Linked DNA regions of Homo sapiens: region 2 is linked to region 1. A link means that fine-mapping ties the variant in region 1 to the expression of a gene that starts in the linked region. Tissue or cell type: whole blood. Region 1 holds a variant in brackets; the other region holds the start of a gene. All regions are shown on one strand. Distances are from middle to middle.

Region 1 (7,307 bases):
TTTTCTAAAATTGACTGTAGTAATGGCTGTAGAACTCTGTGAATATACTGAAAACCATTGTACACTTTAAATGGGTGAATTGCATGGTATGTGAATTATAACCCAGTAAAGCTGTTTAAAAAATAGTGGGGGGCGGGTGGAGGGAATGAAGAGAAGGTGGTTAATGGGTACGAATAAACGGTTTGGTAGGAGGGGTGAGTTCTAGTGTTGATAACACAGTGAGGGGATTATAGTTAACAACAACATACTGTATATTTTGAAATAGCGAGAAGAAAAGATTTGAAATGTTCCCAACATGAAGAAAGGATAGACGTTCGAGGTGATGAACGTCCTAAATACCCCAATTCCATCATTACACATGGCATGCGCGTATCCAAATATCTCATGCACCCCATAAATATGTAAAATGTTATGCATCAATAAACAATTAAAGGTATAAGCGTTGCAGAGTGTCTTCCTTCCAAATAATACAGTATGAAAAGGGAAAAAGAGCAACTTTACAGTGGAGAAAACTGGAAACCTCTGCCTCAGCCACATCGCCGAGGTTGACATCACCGGTGACAAGTCACGCAGACAGCAAGGACGTTGGTGTGATGCTGTGGGAAGGTCACTTTCCATCCTCCCCACAACCCGTGACCCCAAACTAATCACAGGAAAAAGATCAGACAAGTCCCAAATGAGGGACATTCCACAAAATACCCAACCAGTCCTCCTCAAAACTGTCAGGATCACTAAAAATAAGGAAAGTCTGAGAATCTGTCACAGCTGCGAGGGCCCTAAGGAGACATGAGGGCCAACTGTAACATCATACTTTGGATTCTGAGGTAGAAAATGGATATTAAGGGAAAACTGAGGGAATGTGAATAAAGTATGGACTTTAGTTCCTACTACTGTATCGACATGGGCTAATTCACTGTGACAAAGGTACAGTATAATGTGACAGGGTAAGAGTAGGGGAACCTGGGTGTGGAGTATACAGGAACTCTGTGCTATCATCACAATTTTTCTTTATATCTAACAATGTTCTAAAATGAAGTTTATTTTAAAAATAAAAAATAAAGACAGGGGTCCTTGATATCAATAAACCCCATGAAAATACATTCATTAATAATCAGGGAAGCACCTCCCCCAGCACATGTGCATATGACACCCATGCACACACTCAAGCACACGTGCACATGACACCCAGGCACACACTCAACCCAAGCACATGTGCACATGCACACCTGTGCACACACACTCAACCCAAGCATGCATGCATGTGTGCATCTGTGCCCACAGTCAACCCAAACACGTGTGCACCTTACACCCATGACACACCCAACCTGAGCACATGCACACATGCTCAACACAAGCACGTGCACACATGCATACCCATGCACACACAATGCAAGCACATGCACTTCTGTGCACACACATGATGCAAACACATATGCATTGCATGCCCATGCCCATGCAGTCAACCCAAACACGTGTGCACATGCACATACTCAACCTGAGCACATGCACCCATGTACACATGTGCACACACACTCAACCCAAGCACACATGCACATGATACCCATGCACACACACTATGCAAGCACTTCTGCACATATGTGCATGTACACATGCACTCCATCCAAGCACATGTGCACATAGACACCCATGCATGCTCAACTAGAGCACATAAGCAGATACATACATGTGCACACACACACAACCCAGGTATGCATGCACATGCACGTCCATCTGCACACTCAACCCAAGCATGTGCACACACACACACTTGTACACACACACTCAACCCAAGCACATGTGCAGTTGCACGAATGTGCATACACAACCCAAGCACACACTCAACCCAAGCACAGCTCACCAGGGACAGAGGCCCAGGAACAGACTCTGACAAAACAATGAAGAGAATCCAAAAAGCAATTACACTGCCAAGTATTACGCAAACACAATTATTGGAATTGCTAGTCAAAAACGGTTAATAGAATAATTAAGATAGATTGACCTAAAAGCTGATTTTAAATTAACCTGACATGTGCATATACTATCTAAATAATACTCTTTCCTCTGATTTAGTCTCTCATTAAAATCAGATTTCATTGGGAGAAATTATACATTTGCACCATCATTGGGAAGAAGAAGCCATGTTCACTCACCCACTGATGAAAATAGGAGATTATTAGAGGAAGTAAAATGGGAATATATTTTCCTGGCCTTCCCTGGCACAGTGTGATCTGTCCCTGTAATAAACCACCGCTTCCTCCTAGCCTGCCACTCGGGAGGTGAGGGAAGCCAGTTAAGATGGCCTCAACTAAGGACCCCAAACCACTAGTGTCTGTGTGTGTCTGTGAAGCTCGCTCACGGGGGAAGGGCCCGTGGGGTGGGCAAGAGCAAGGAAGAGAAATGAGCACTTGGAGACGCCAGGCAACCAGGAAGACCCAGAGGAAACTCGGTACGTCTGCATTGAACACGTCTTCATGGGTGAGAAAACTGCAGCCAAGGAAGGAGAGGGATTGTTTCCAGGCAAACAGCAAGCGCTGGCAGAGAGGCAGGGACAGAGGCTGTTTTCGGCATCCAGCATCTCTGTTCAGCTCATGATTCCCTGCCACACCCCAGATAAAATGAACCCCTGTGGGGGTTTGTCTGTGCACGCGTCCAGGGCCTATCCTGGTCTGTGTGAACAGACTGGCCCTGCATCCCAGCACAGAAGCCTGGGCTGAGCACCAAAGGCCCCCAACTGCGGGAGGCAGGTCCTGGTCACTGCTCCCTCCACGGCCATGGCTCCAGTGTGCAGATCTCAGCTAGTGTCTAAAACACGAAGGCACTGGGTCACTACAGCTATGGGCCTCCTTGTTCATTGAAACCCTTGGAGTTACCTCGTTAACACTTTTTAAATGGATAGCCACTTCACATTTTTTAAGATAAAGAATTTCCCCATTAAAATTATTGAGATTCAGTAATAACACATTATTAGGATAAGCAGGACATGTAAGATGCTACAAAATGATCTATTACTTGGAGGATTTTAAAACCCTAATGAGAAAAACGCTCACTACCATTTATTCGTTCTCTTAGCCTTCAGCACCATTAGTCTGAGGAGCAGCATAGGGCTGGGGCTGGCTGCATCCACACTCACCCCTCTGATTGCTCCAGAACCTTTTCTTCAAAGAGAAATCTCTGCACTCTGCAGGGACGGTAAGTGG[C/T]GACCCTTAGGTAGCTGAAAGCACGGGGAAAAGAGCAGGAAGAGGTGGGAACATGGAGATGGAGAACACAGGGAGCGGCACGCTCAACGCAGGTGGAGTCTGTGTCCCCTCCAGCGATAGCCAGAACCAGGACCACCAGGGATCCGACATCACTGGCCCCATCCCGTAGGGTGGGCTGTGGGCAGGGAACAGCTGAATCGCCAGGCCACTCTCAGACCCTTGGCAGACACAAGGAATAACAGCTGTGGCCGCCGCTGTGGCCGCAGTCCCAAAGTTTGGAGAGAAATAGCAGCAAGTAGCAGCACCACTGTCCGTCAGCTTGAGTGCTTCTCGGACAAAGGAAGACAGTTCTCCTGTTTCCCAAAGACTTGCAAAGGCTGTGTGTTCCTCAGGCAGCTACTGCGCCATCGGCCTCTGAGTGATAAGGAAAGGAACCAGGGCTCAAACCTACTCCTGAGTGAGTCAAAGCAACTCCGCACTCCCTGCCAGCACTGAGGGTGACCCCCGAGCCCTGCTCAGGAGCTGTGGGGCCCGAGATCTCCCCTCCGCCCCGTGGGCAGGGGAAGGGCAGCAAAGGCTCTCTGCCACGCCTGTGTTCGGGCTCCAGAACTCTTGGCCTGGTGTCTGGAAGATGGGATTGCTGCCTTGGACAAGCCTCTCCTCCTTGCTTTTCCCTTTTTCTCACAGTGGGGTTTAAGCTAAGGTCCTATTCCTAGATCACTAATAATGATAGCAGGTGCCATTTATGAACACCTACTGTATCCCAGTGCTGCTCTCAGTGCTGTACCTGTATTCTCTCATCTCATTCTCTCAAGGGCCCAGTAAGGTAGCCACTTCATTAGCCATCTTTTACTAAAGAGCAGACTAGGCACAGAGACGGTAGGTCACTTTCTGAAGGTCACACAGCGAATGCAGGTGAGAACCAGGCTGTCCACGAAGGAAGTCTGACCCCTGATTGGGCTGTAATCACTGTGCTGTGCAGACACCCTCTCCATCAAGACCCTTCTGTGTTGCACCCCCCACCCCCACCCCCTTCTCTGCTTGGAAATGAAGTAGCTTTCAGGGGACTCTTATGAGGCTCCCGCCTCCCCAGGCTGGCCCCACACAGCCCCAAGACAGGAGCCCCCAGTGGCGCCTTGGTGGGCTTCTTGAGGGTTGCCTTAATCTTCCCCAGCCACCCACGGGAGACACCTGAGGTTTGTGGCTTGTGCCACGCGGCTCCAGGGCCTCCAGCACCCACCTGCAGACACGGCTTCAGCCGGCCCATGCTCCTTCTGTTTCTTTCGCTAGCTTGTTTAGGTTTCATTCACAAACAGTAAAGCCCATTCATGTGACAGTTGTATACAGTCATGTAACATCTACCACAGTCAAGATGTGGAACATTTCATTCTCCTAAAAAGTGTTCTCCTGCCCCTTTAGATTCCCTCCTCCAGCTCCCAGCCCCAGGCAGACAGTGATCTGATTCCTGTCCCTGTAACTTTGCCTTTCCTGGAAGCTCATAGACATGGAACAGTACTCTATCTCTTCCACTTAACTTGATGATTTCAAGACTTATCCATGTCGTGTAGGCTTAATATTTTGTTCATTTTTTATTAATGGGTAGTATCTCATAATATGCATGCACCGTAGGTTACCAACTTGCCTGTTGATGGGCATTTGGGCTGTTTGCAGTTTGGATGTATTACAAATAACATTGGTGTGAGCACTTGTGTCCACGTCTTTGTGTGGACATATGTTTTCATTTTCCTGGGGTAAATATTTAGGATTGGAATTGCTGGGTCATGTGGTAAGTGAATGTTTTACCTCTTAGATAGTGTCAGTCCATTTTCCAAAGTATTTCCATTTAAAATTCCAACCAAATTTCATGCATTCCAATTTAAATTGTATGTAAATTCCCATTGTTCTATATCCTTGTCAACACTTAGTATTGTCAATCTTTTTAACTTTAGACTGCTTTTAATGTGTACTCCTCTGATGGCAAGTGACGTTGATCATTTTTTCATGTGCCTATGGGTCATATATCTTTTTTGTCATGTATTTGTCCAAGTCCTTTTCAATTTTTAACTGCAGTTTTCAAATTATTGATTTATAAGATATCTTCATATATTCTGAGTACAAGCCCATTGTCAGATGTGGATTTTGTAAAATTATTCTGCCAGTTTGTAGTCTGCTTTTGCATTCCCTTAACTCTGTTTAATTTTGAGCAACCTTTTCAATTTTGCTGAATTTGTTTTATCATTTTTTATCATCTGTGCTTTCACATCTTGTTTCTAAAAAATGTTTATTCTAGCCCAAGTCATAAAAATTCTTCTGTATGTTTTCTTCTAGAACTTTAAAAGTTCTAATAATTTTCAGTCCATGATCCATCTCAAGATAATTTTGCATGTGGTGGGAGGTAAGGCTTGAAGGTTATTTTGTTTTTCCATGTAGATATCAACTTATCCTGGCACCATTTATTGAAACAGCTAGTTCTGAAAGAATTAAATTTTTACCTTTACCAGCAATCAAGGGACTATATAAATGTGGGTCTTTCTGACTTCCCCTTCGGCTCAGTTGGCCTCTGTGTCTTTCCTGATGCCAAAACCACACTGTCGTGATTACCATACCTGTATAGTAATTTTTGAAATCAAGTAGCGTGGGCCCCACAACCTTGTTCTTATTTTTCAAAGTTGTTTCTGGATATTTTAACCCTTTTGTCTTTCCATGTAAATCTTAGCATCAGCTGTCTCATTTCTTCAAAAGGACCATAAGTGGCACGGTAGTATATTGATGAGCAAAGACATACAATCGATTTTTCTATGAAAGTTAAATGCTGCAACTTGGCTAAACTAATTTTATTTGTACTAATAGTTTGGTTTTTATGGTGGTAAAATTCACATATTATAAAATTCACTATTTTCACAATTTTGAAGTGCACAATTCAGTGGCATCCAGTGCGTTCACCACGTTGTCGGCCCCAGGACATTCGCATCACCAAGAAAGGAGACACCACATCAATCGAGGTGTCACTCTCTGTTCCTCCCTTCCCCCAGCTCCTGTCACCACTAACCTGCGTTCTGCCTCTTTAGATCTGCCCATTTCGTATAACTGGAATCATATAACATGCGGCCCTTTGTGTCCGTCTTCTTTCACTCATCATGTTTTCAGTTTCAAGGTTCATCCATATTGTGGCATGTTAGGGCTTCATTCCTGTTTGTGGTTGATGAGTAGACCACGCTTTCTCAGTGCCTATGCTAGTTGTTTGTAAGTTTCTTAAGATACTTCCTCATACATGATTCATGATATCTGCATAAAGAGGCAGTTCTTCTTCTCCCTTTCCAGTGTTTATGCTTTAACTTTAATGTCATTTAAAGCTACCTGTGTCTCTGTTCTTCAAGTGCAATTTTGGAAGACAGCATGTGTGTGGGTCTTGTTTTCATATCTATTCTGACAACCTCTGCGTTTTACCTGAAATCTTTGGTCCACTCATATTTAAATAAGTATTGACATGGTTATGTCTGGGTCTGTAATTTTATGCCTCGCTCTCTATACATACCCTCCAGTTCCCCCCTTTGTTTCTCATTTCTTAACTTTTTTTAGGGTTACGTGAATATTTACTGATTGATTTTTCTCCTCATTATATTTTGTGAATATACGTGAATATTTATTGATTGATCTTTCTCCTTATTAAGCTTTTTCAGCATGGTATCACCTCAGTAGTAGAGCATAATCAGTCCTAGACTAATTTAGGCCCCACCCAAAAAAGCTTAAAATCAAGCCTCAAATATATCAAATTGTTTCCAAGTAAAGTAACTTCATCCCTGAAAAGTTTTAAAATAATTTTAGGAGTGCAAAACTATCCAGGATCTAACAAGGAAAAGTACATGATGTCTAGCATACAGTAAAAAATCACCAAGTATGCAAAGAGGCAGGAAAACACATCATGTAATGAGGAATATCAACAAATTGAAACTAATTCACAAATGGCACAGATGAGGGCATTCCTAGACACAGATGAACTGTAGTTATTATCACTCTATTCCACATGATAACGTTAAGCAGAGATATGAAAAACATTAAAAAGTCCCAATTCTAACTTTTAGAGATGAAACCATTTCTGAGATAAAGAAA
Region 2 (7,307 bases), 82 kb after region 1:
TGGGAAGCCCGTCTGCCCCCCTCATTCCTGGGGAGCCCGTCTGCCCCCCTCATTCCTGGGGAGCCTGTCTGCCCCCCCCATTCCTGGGGGACCCATCTGTCCCCCCTCATTCCTGGGGATCCCATCTGTCCCCCTCATTCCTGGGGAGCCCGTCTGCCCCCCTCATTCCTGGGGAGCCCGTCTGCCCCCCTCATTCCTGGGGGGCCCGTCTGTCCCAGGGCTTTGCATACTGAGGCCTCGCAATCCACAAGCTTTCCTAATTCCCAGCTCATCCACATGACAACAGCCCTTCCCCGGGGGCTCTGGCCGACCTCCCTTCGTCCTCACCACACAGCTGCTCTCCCTGCCCCGCCCTTAGCCCTCCTTAGACCCATCCACCCGGCCCCTAGGTGAGCCTCTCCCGACCCAAGACCCAGCGTCGTCCCTCTGTCCCCAGCCTTCCCACGGCCCCCTCACTCAGGACGCAGCCCACAGCCTGGCCCCACCTGCAGACCTTACAGAGGCCACTTGGCCCCTCACACAATGCCCACCTCACAGGCCTTCTCTCCCCGCAGAGGGTCAGACATGCCCCTGCCCCAGCCTTGGCATTTCCACCCCGCAGGCCTCCACGGGGCTGAGCCCTCAGGTACCAGCTTCTGTGCAAAGCCATGCCTGGAGGCCTTCCTGGGCCACGTGGTCTAAGACAGCAATCCCCTCACACCCAGAGCAGGCAGCCCTCCCTGCCCGGGCCGTCTTATTTTCCTATGTCATTCCTGTCACCACCTGGCGCTCACCTTGGCTAACTGGAGCTCCAGCCCCTTTGGACGAAAAGAGCTCCCAGAGCCACTCCCTGGTCTCTGATGGGGCTGTGTGTCCTCTCCAGGTGCCCTCCCCGACAGCCAGCCCCTCCGCCTCTGCACAAGGGAGGGCCCAGGGAGGCTCAGGGCCTGTGTGGCTGTGTGTGTGTCTCTATGTGTCTGTGTGTCTGTGTGTTTCTGTGTATCTATGTGTGTATGTGAATGTGTATCTGTCCATGTATCTGTGTATATCTGTGTCTGTGTGTGTGTGTATGTCTGTGTCTGTGTGTATATCTGCGTCTGTATGTATATATGCGTGTCTGTGTGTATACGTGTCTGTGTACCTGTGTCTTCGTATGTCTATGTGTGTATTGGTGTGTGTCTGTGTGTGTCCATGTGTGATGACATGTGTATCTGTGTCTATGTGTGCATCTATGTATATCTGTGTGTATGTCTTTGTGTATCTATAGATCTGTGTCTATGTGTATATTATCTCTGTGTTCATCTGAGTATTGTATGTCCATGTGTGTCTACATGTGCCTGTGTCTGTATCTGTGTCTGTCTATGTGTCTATGTGTGTATCTGTGTGTCCGTGTGTGTGTGTCCATATATCTGTCTATGCATGTATCATCTGTGTGTCTGTGTATTGTGTATCCATGCATATATCCGTAACTATGGGTATGTCTGTGTGTGTTTGTGTCCACGTGTGTGTATCTGTGTGTGTCTATATATCTGTGTCTATGTGTGTGTCTGTGTCCACGTGTGTGTATCTGTGTGTGTCTATATATCCGTGTCTGTGTGTATCTGTGTGTATCTATGTGTGCATCTGTGTGTGTCTGTTTTCTCTTTGTTTTTATGGTGTCCACGGATGGGCCGACTGAACCACCAAATTCCTCCTCAGAGCCCAGTAAAGGCACCAGGCGGAAGGGTCTGGCGGAGGGTTGGCCGCTGTCTCCTCACTCCTCAGCGGGGTCCTGTCTTCCGACTTTTGTCTCGCGCCGCCGCAGCCTGTGGACTCCTGGGCCCTCCTCTGAGAGCCTGCGCTGTGCCTGGCCCCGGGCGGAACTTTGAACGAGGCTCCTGTCTTAACTCGACTGCTTGTGCTTGGGGGAGATAAACAATAAACAGGAGCAGAAGAAAGTGTCCTCAGACCACGGCGGGTGCTGTTGGGAAAACAGTGGCGGGGCAGGGAGGGGGGCGCTTCTGAAGGACCTGGCGAGGTAGAGGCCACTGTTCTAAGAGGCAACAGACGAGATGAACCAGGACCCTCTGCGAGGGAGGGAGGCGTCCAGGGGTGCACACGGGTCCAGATAGCTGCCGGGCTCCCAAAAACCACTCTGGGGGTGAGGATGGGAGGGGAGAGGAGTTGGGGGCAGGAGGCAAGTGAAAGTAAGTGCCCAGGGAACCTCCATGAGGCCCCCCACACCGGATAATAGTGTTCCATGGGGTCTGCTCAGCCCCATGTCTGCCCCAAGACACTAGCCACAGCTCTGCGTCGAGGTCCTGTAGACCACGGGAGAGATGGGGGGGCCAGGAGCCTATAGAACTCCAAGTCCAAGGGGACCCTTGCTGGGAGAACACAGGCCAAGACCTTCCTTCCTGCCACAGGCTTCTGTCCCTGCTGTCTGCTCCCCCAGGACTCCCCCCACACCCGGGATCTTCCTCCTCACCCTCCTTGGCCTCTCTCAGTGACCCTGTCTACACACAGATGTGCTGTCCATGTGAGTGGAAGGAAGGAAGGATGAGGTCCACTCACAGGGGTGAAGCTGTCTCCTGAGGGGGCAGCCCACCTCCAGGTCACACCGCCCCACCCAACACAGCCTCCAGTCCAGCTCCAGGTGGGCCGCACCCAGCCCTTCACTCACTTCAAATGGCCCAAGACGCATGGATTCCACTGGCCAGCCGGACTGGAACAACTTCTCCCCTTATAAGTATCTAGTGGGTGCCCACGGAATGCCAGGCAATGGGCCAGGCTCAGAGATGAGTGATTCCTCAGGAACAATGGGCTCAACGCCCTTAATTCACATCAGAGGAAACTGAGGCTCAGAGAGGGCGGAGAGGGCCCTGGTAACACAGCCAGCCGGTGAAAGTAAGAGGGGGGGCCCAGGCCCTGCTCCCGGCCCACCCGCCTGGGCTTGCTGGCGAGGCTGCTGGCCCAGGCAGTCTGGGCACTGTGGAAGCAGCCGGCTTGAGGCACAGGGGATGTGGCCTCCTCCCACACACTTACCTCCCTGACTACATCTTAGGCTGACATCCAGATTAACTCATATTCCCTACAGGGAGCTGCACGGCCAGAAGCTGCTGGTTGCAGAAGCCACCAGCTGGTTGTACAAGCACCGCTCCCCTGGTTGTGGGTGACAGATGAGATGCACTCACGTGAACACACATGCATGTGCACACACACATGCACACAGACGCACACACAAACACACACAGGCATACACACGCACACGCACATCCACACACACACATGCGCACACACACGCACACGCCTGCACTCACACACCCCCGTCGGCCCCAAGCAGGAAGGCGCCCCCGGCACACCAGCCCCTCTCAGCGCCCCCAGCGGGCCCGGCGCCTGGAGGGTTAAGGCGGGCGCGTCCCGCGGGTGGGCGGGGGGGGGGGGACGGGACCGGTGCCGGGAGCTCCGCTGCCCTGGCGTCCCCTGGGTCCAGGCCCAGTCGCTCCTTGGGCCTCTCTCGCGGGGCCGCCTCCGCCTCCTCCTTGCCGAGACGGGCGTGGGGCACGGGGTCGCCGCCCGGCGGGGAGCTCATCCGGCGGCGCAGACGCCCCGCGGCTCCGGGGAGGGACTTGGCCTGGGCCCCGGCCCCGCGCTCCTCTGGGGAGGAGCCGAGAGGCTGCAGCTGGCGGCGGCGGCCCCGGGCGGGAGGGGGTCCCAGGAAGCGGCCAGGCCGGAGCCCCCCACTCGGCCGCAGCTGCTGGCCTGGCCAGAACCGAGCGCGCCCTCCCGGTCTCCGCCGCTTCCCTCTGCAAACCGCGGGCAGGAGGAGCCCTCTCCTTAGCGGGCCCGGAGCTCAGAGGCGTCGCGGGGCGCGGCCGAGGGGAGGAGGAAGGAGAGCGGGAGCGCAGCCGGCCCGGGCCCAGCCGTGACTCGTGGGGCGGCGGCTCCGCCAATCTGTGGGCGCTGACGCGGGGGGCGGCTCCGCGGCGCTCGATATCTGCCCGCCCGGGACGCGGGGCGCCGAGAGGCTCGGCCAGGCGGGAGCTGCGCTCGGGGCGGCCGCTGCACCTGCCCGGGACCCCGCCGGCCGCTCCCCGCGCCCACCCCTTCCGCCCTTCGCCCCCCCCTTCCCCCCAGCCCCGGTCTCCCGGGCGCGGCGTGAGAGCAGAGCCCGGCCCGGAGGAGCCGCCCCTTCCCCGCCCGCCCGCCCGGCGCCTGGAGAGGAGCGCGCTGAGGATCGGGACGCCTGCGGCCGCCGCCACCGCCCAGGCCCGTCGCGCCCCGGCCGGGATGGACCCACACGCCCGATGAGCCCCGCGCCGGCGGCTGCGAGCGCCGAGCCTCCCCCTGCTGCGGCCCCAGCCGCCCCCCGCGCGCCCGGCTCCGCGGACCAGGACCCCTGGGCTCCCCGGCTGAGGGCGCGGCCGCTCCGGAGAGGCCGAGCGGGGACGGGCCCGAGATGGCGCGGGGACCCAGCGCTCCGGCGGCGGGCGCCCTGCACGCGGCCCGGGCCCGGGGACAGCCCCGGAGCTGGTAGCCGCCCGGCACCGATGGACCTTGACCCGCGAGGCGGCGCCGCGCTCGTGCCCAGCTGCAGCTAGAGGGGCGCGCGGGCAGAACGCGCTCCAGGCCCGGGCCGGCCCGCGCGGCCATGAAGATGATGCTGGTGCGCCGGTTCCGCGTGCTCATCCTGATGGTGTTCCTGGTGGCCTGCGCGCTGCACATCGCCCTGGACCTGCTGCCCAGGCTGGAGCGACGCGGCGCGCGGCCCTCGGGGGAGCCCGGCTGTTCGTGCGCGCAGCCCGCCGCCGAGGTGGCCGCGCCCGGCTGGGCCCAGGTTCGGGGCCGCCCCGGGGAGCCCCCGGCCGCCTCCTCCGCCGCCGGCGACGCGGGCTGGCCCAACAAGCACACGCTCCGCATCCTGCAGGACTTCAGCTCCGACCCCTCCTCCAACCTCTCGTCCCACTCGCTGGAGAAACTGCCGCCCGCGGCCGAGCCGGCCGAGCGCGCCTTGCGGGGGCGGGATCCCGGCGCCCTAAGACCCCACGACCCCGCGCACCGGCCGCTGCTGCGAGACCCCGGCCCGCGTCGGTCCGAGTCGCCCCCCGGCCCCGGCGGAGACGCCTCCCTCCTGGCCAGGCTGTTCGAGCACCCGCTTTACCGGGTGGCGGTTCCGCCGCTCACGGAGGAGGACGTCCTGTTCAATGTGAACAGCGACACCAGGCTCAGCCCCAAAGCGGCGGAGAACCCGGACTGGTGAGTGGGGGCTGGCAGGTGCCCACCCCCAAGGGAGCCGTGAGCCCAAGGCATGGTGTAGAGAGGTTCAGGGGCCCCAGAGGGCCGCCCCCCATGGAAGAGGCCGGGCAGGGAGTGTGGTGCGGGAGGAGGCAGCCGCCTACCTCAGGGCGCTGCCTTTGTCTCCAGAATAACCTCCTCCTTGGGAGGGGCTGCCGGCTGGTCCGGGAGCTGTGCCCTGTGGCTGCTGGTGAGGAAGCCAGACCCCGCGCCCTTTAGAAGCGAGTCCTGACCAGCCGTGGTCACCAGCTTGGGAAATGGGGTCAGGCAATGAATGAATGAGTTGGTGAGGGAAGGAGCCAGGCTGCCGCTGGGCTTTCAGACACTTGGCGAGGGTGCTCTGGGTGGGCACCTTGGAGAAGGTCTGGATGTGCCTATTGAGTCTTTTAAACCCAGTGGCTGGAGCAGAATTATCAGAGGGGCTTGCTGGCAGCCGTGAGGTGCAACAAGGCGGCCCAGCCAGCAAGGGCGGTGGGTGTGCTGGCTGCAAAGAGATGATGGCTCGATAAAGGGCGAGAAGCCACGGCAGGAACCTCTCTTTAAACTGTCCTGGCTAAGCCCTTTCCCCACCCCCCGGCCCCTCCCTCCGCCACACAGATCAAAACAAGCAGATGCTACACCGAAGCAGTGGAACATTAACCACGACAAGGCCAGAATAAGTAACTACCTGCCGAAGGTTACCCCAGCAGCAGAGGGGGAGACCAGCCTTCCAAAAGATCTGGTTGAAAGTCCCTTCTTCCCTGAAATGTCCAGGCCCAGTGTCTTCTGTCTAAACACACTGGCTGTTTGGAAGCCTCTGAGCCTTGCCTGCTGGTCAGGTTCAAGGAAATGCTTGGAAATTTGAGAACCAGAGCATTGGCCTGGGCTGTGGCTCTCGGCAGGGAGAGACGGCCGCCCAGAGCAGCGAGTGGCCAGGAAGTGTATCCTAGCCCCCCACCCCGCCCCCGTGTCCACCGCAGGACAGAGCTTCGGCAGAAAGCACCTCAGCTTTAGGTGAATTCGAGCTAGGACAAGTTCCGCGTTTCCCTCCAGCCCAGCAGGCAGACGGAGGGTCTGTCCCTCCTCCAGAACGGTCCCTTGACCCCAGAGATGTGAGGACAGGCTGCGTGGGCGGCGGGTCCTCCATGGGAGCCTGGGCTGGAGAGAGTGCTGCCTCCTTCCTCTCTCCCCACCCAAGGCTGCTCTCATTAAAATCAAATTTAGCCTCTTGCATCATTGTGCCCCTGGTTGTTGGAACAAAAGCAGAGAGCTGGGGAAGGTTCCTGACAGACTGGGCGTGTCTGTGAGTTTCATGCAGCCTGTGGTCAATGGTAGGTTCTCCCCTCTACTCCAGGGGAGGGCCACAGCCCCTCGCACCCTCAGCTGAGGTCATGGTTGGGCCATTTCGGTGACCCTGGGACAGACGTGGCGGGGATGGCAGGGCAGCGCTGACGTCCTGGAATTAGTTTTGCTGTAGTTAGAGCTGTCTGTGGTGTCTCCAGAGGGTGAGTAAGAATTACAGGCCTTTCACCGTGTTATTAGTTGGCAGCCGAGCGGCCACAGAAGAAAGCGCAGACGTTGCAGGGCCCTCTTTAAGCAGAGGCGCCTTCAACACATCTGCACTTGCTTGAACCCAAAGTTAAAAACACTGGCGTCGGTGCCCTCTCCCCGTCATCCGACTCACGGGCCTGTTCTTTCCATGCTGATGTTCGTCCTCGCTGCTCCCTGCAGGCCGCATGCGGGTGCTGAAGGTGCAGAATTCCTCTCCCCCGGGGAGGCGGCCGTGGACTCCTATCCCAACTGGCTCAAGTTCCACATTGGTATCAACCGGTACGAGCTGTACTCCAGACACAACCCGGCCATCGAGGCCCTGCTGCACGACCTCAGCTCCCAGAGGATCACCAGCGTGGGTAGGTGTCCTTGGGTGCACTCAGGGCCGTCTGTGTGCCGGCTGTGTGGCATCAGGGCTGCTGGGGCAGGCTATGTGTTAGAGAGGTCTGGGAGGCCGTTGCTCATTACGGCAGCGTCACCTCCTGCAGCAATCTGCACGGGCAGCGAGGAGGGACAGAGGGCTC

The links. PIP is the estimated chance that this variant, and not a neighbour inherited with it, causes the effect.
Region 2: it holds the start of FAM20C, and the variant in region 1 is fine-mapped to the expression of FAM20C in whole blood (TOPMed, PIP 0.98).

What each region holds. Positions count from the first base shown.
Region 1 is chr7:106,655-113,961 of GRCh38, forward strand. LOC105375114 (a long non-coding RNA gene) reads right to left here. Exons shown (of 3, transcript XR_926959.3): 3 at 6,002-7,307. Among named protein-coding and RNA genes, the nearest start is that of LINC03015, 39 kb to the right of the region's middle. RefSeq lists an enhancer at 2,020-2,736. The variant C/T (reference allele first, on the strand shown) is at 3,198.
Region 2 is chr7:188,591-195,897 of GRCh38, forward strand. It overlaps FAM20C (FAM20C golgi associated secretory pathway kinase), which reads left to right and starts at 3,981. Exons shown (of 10, transcript NM_020223.4): 1 at 3,981-5,214; 2 at 6,964-7,142. The coding sequence starts at 4,610. LOC124901808 (a long non-coding RNA gene) reads right to left here and starts at 1,528. Exons shown (of 2, transcript XR_007060632.1): 1 at 1-1,528. RefSeq lists enhancers at 1-333, 6,758-7,307.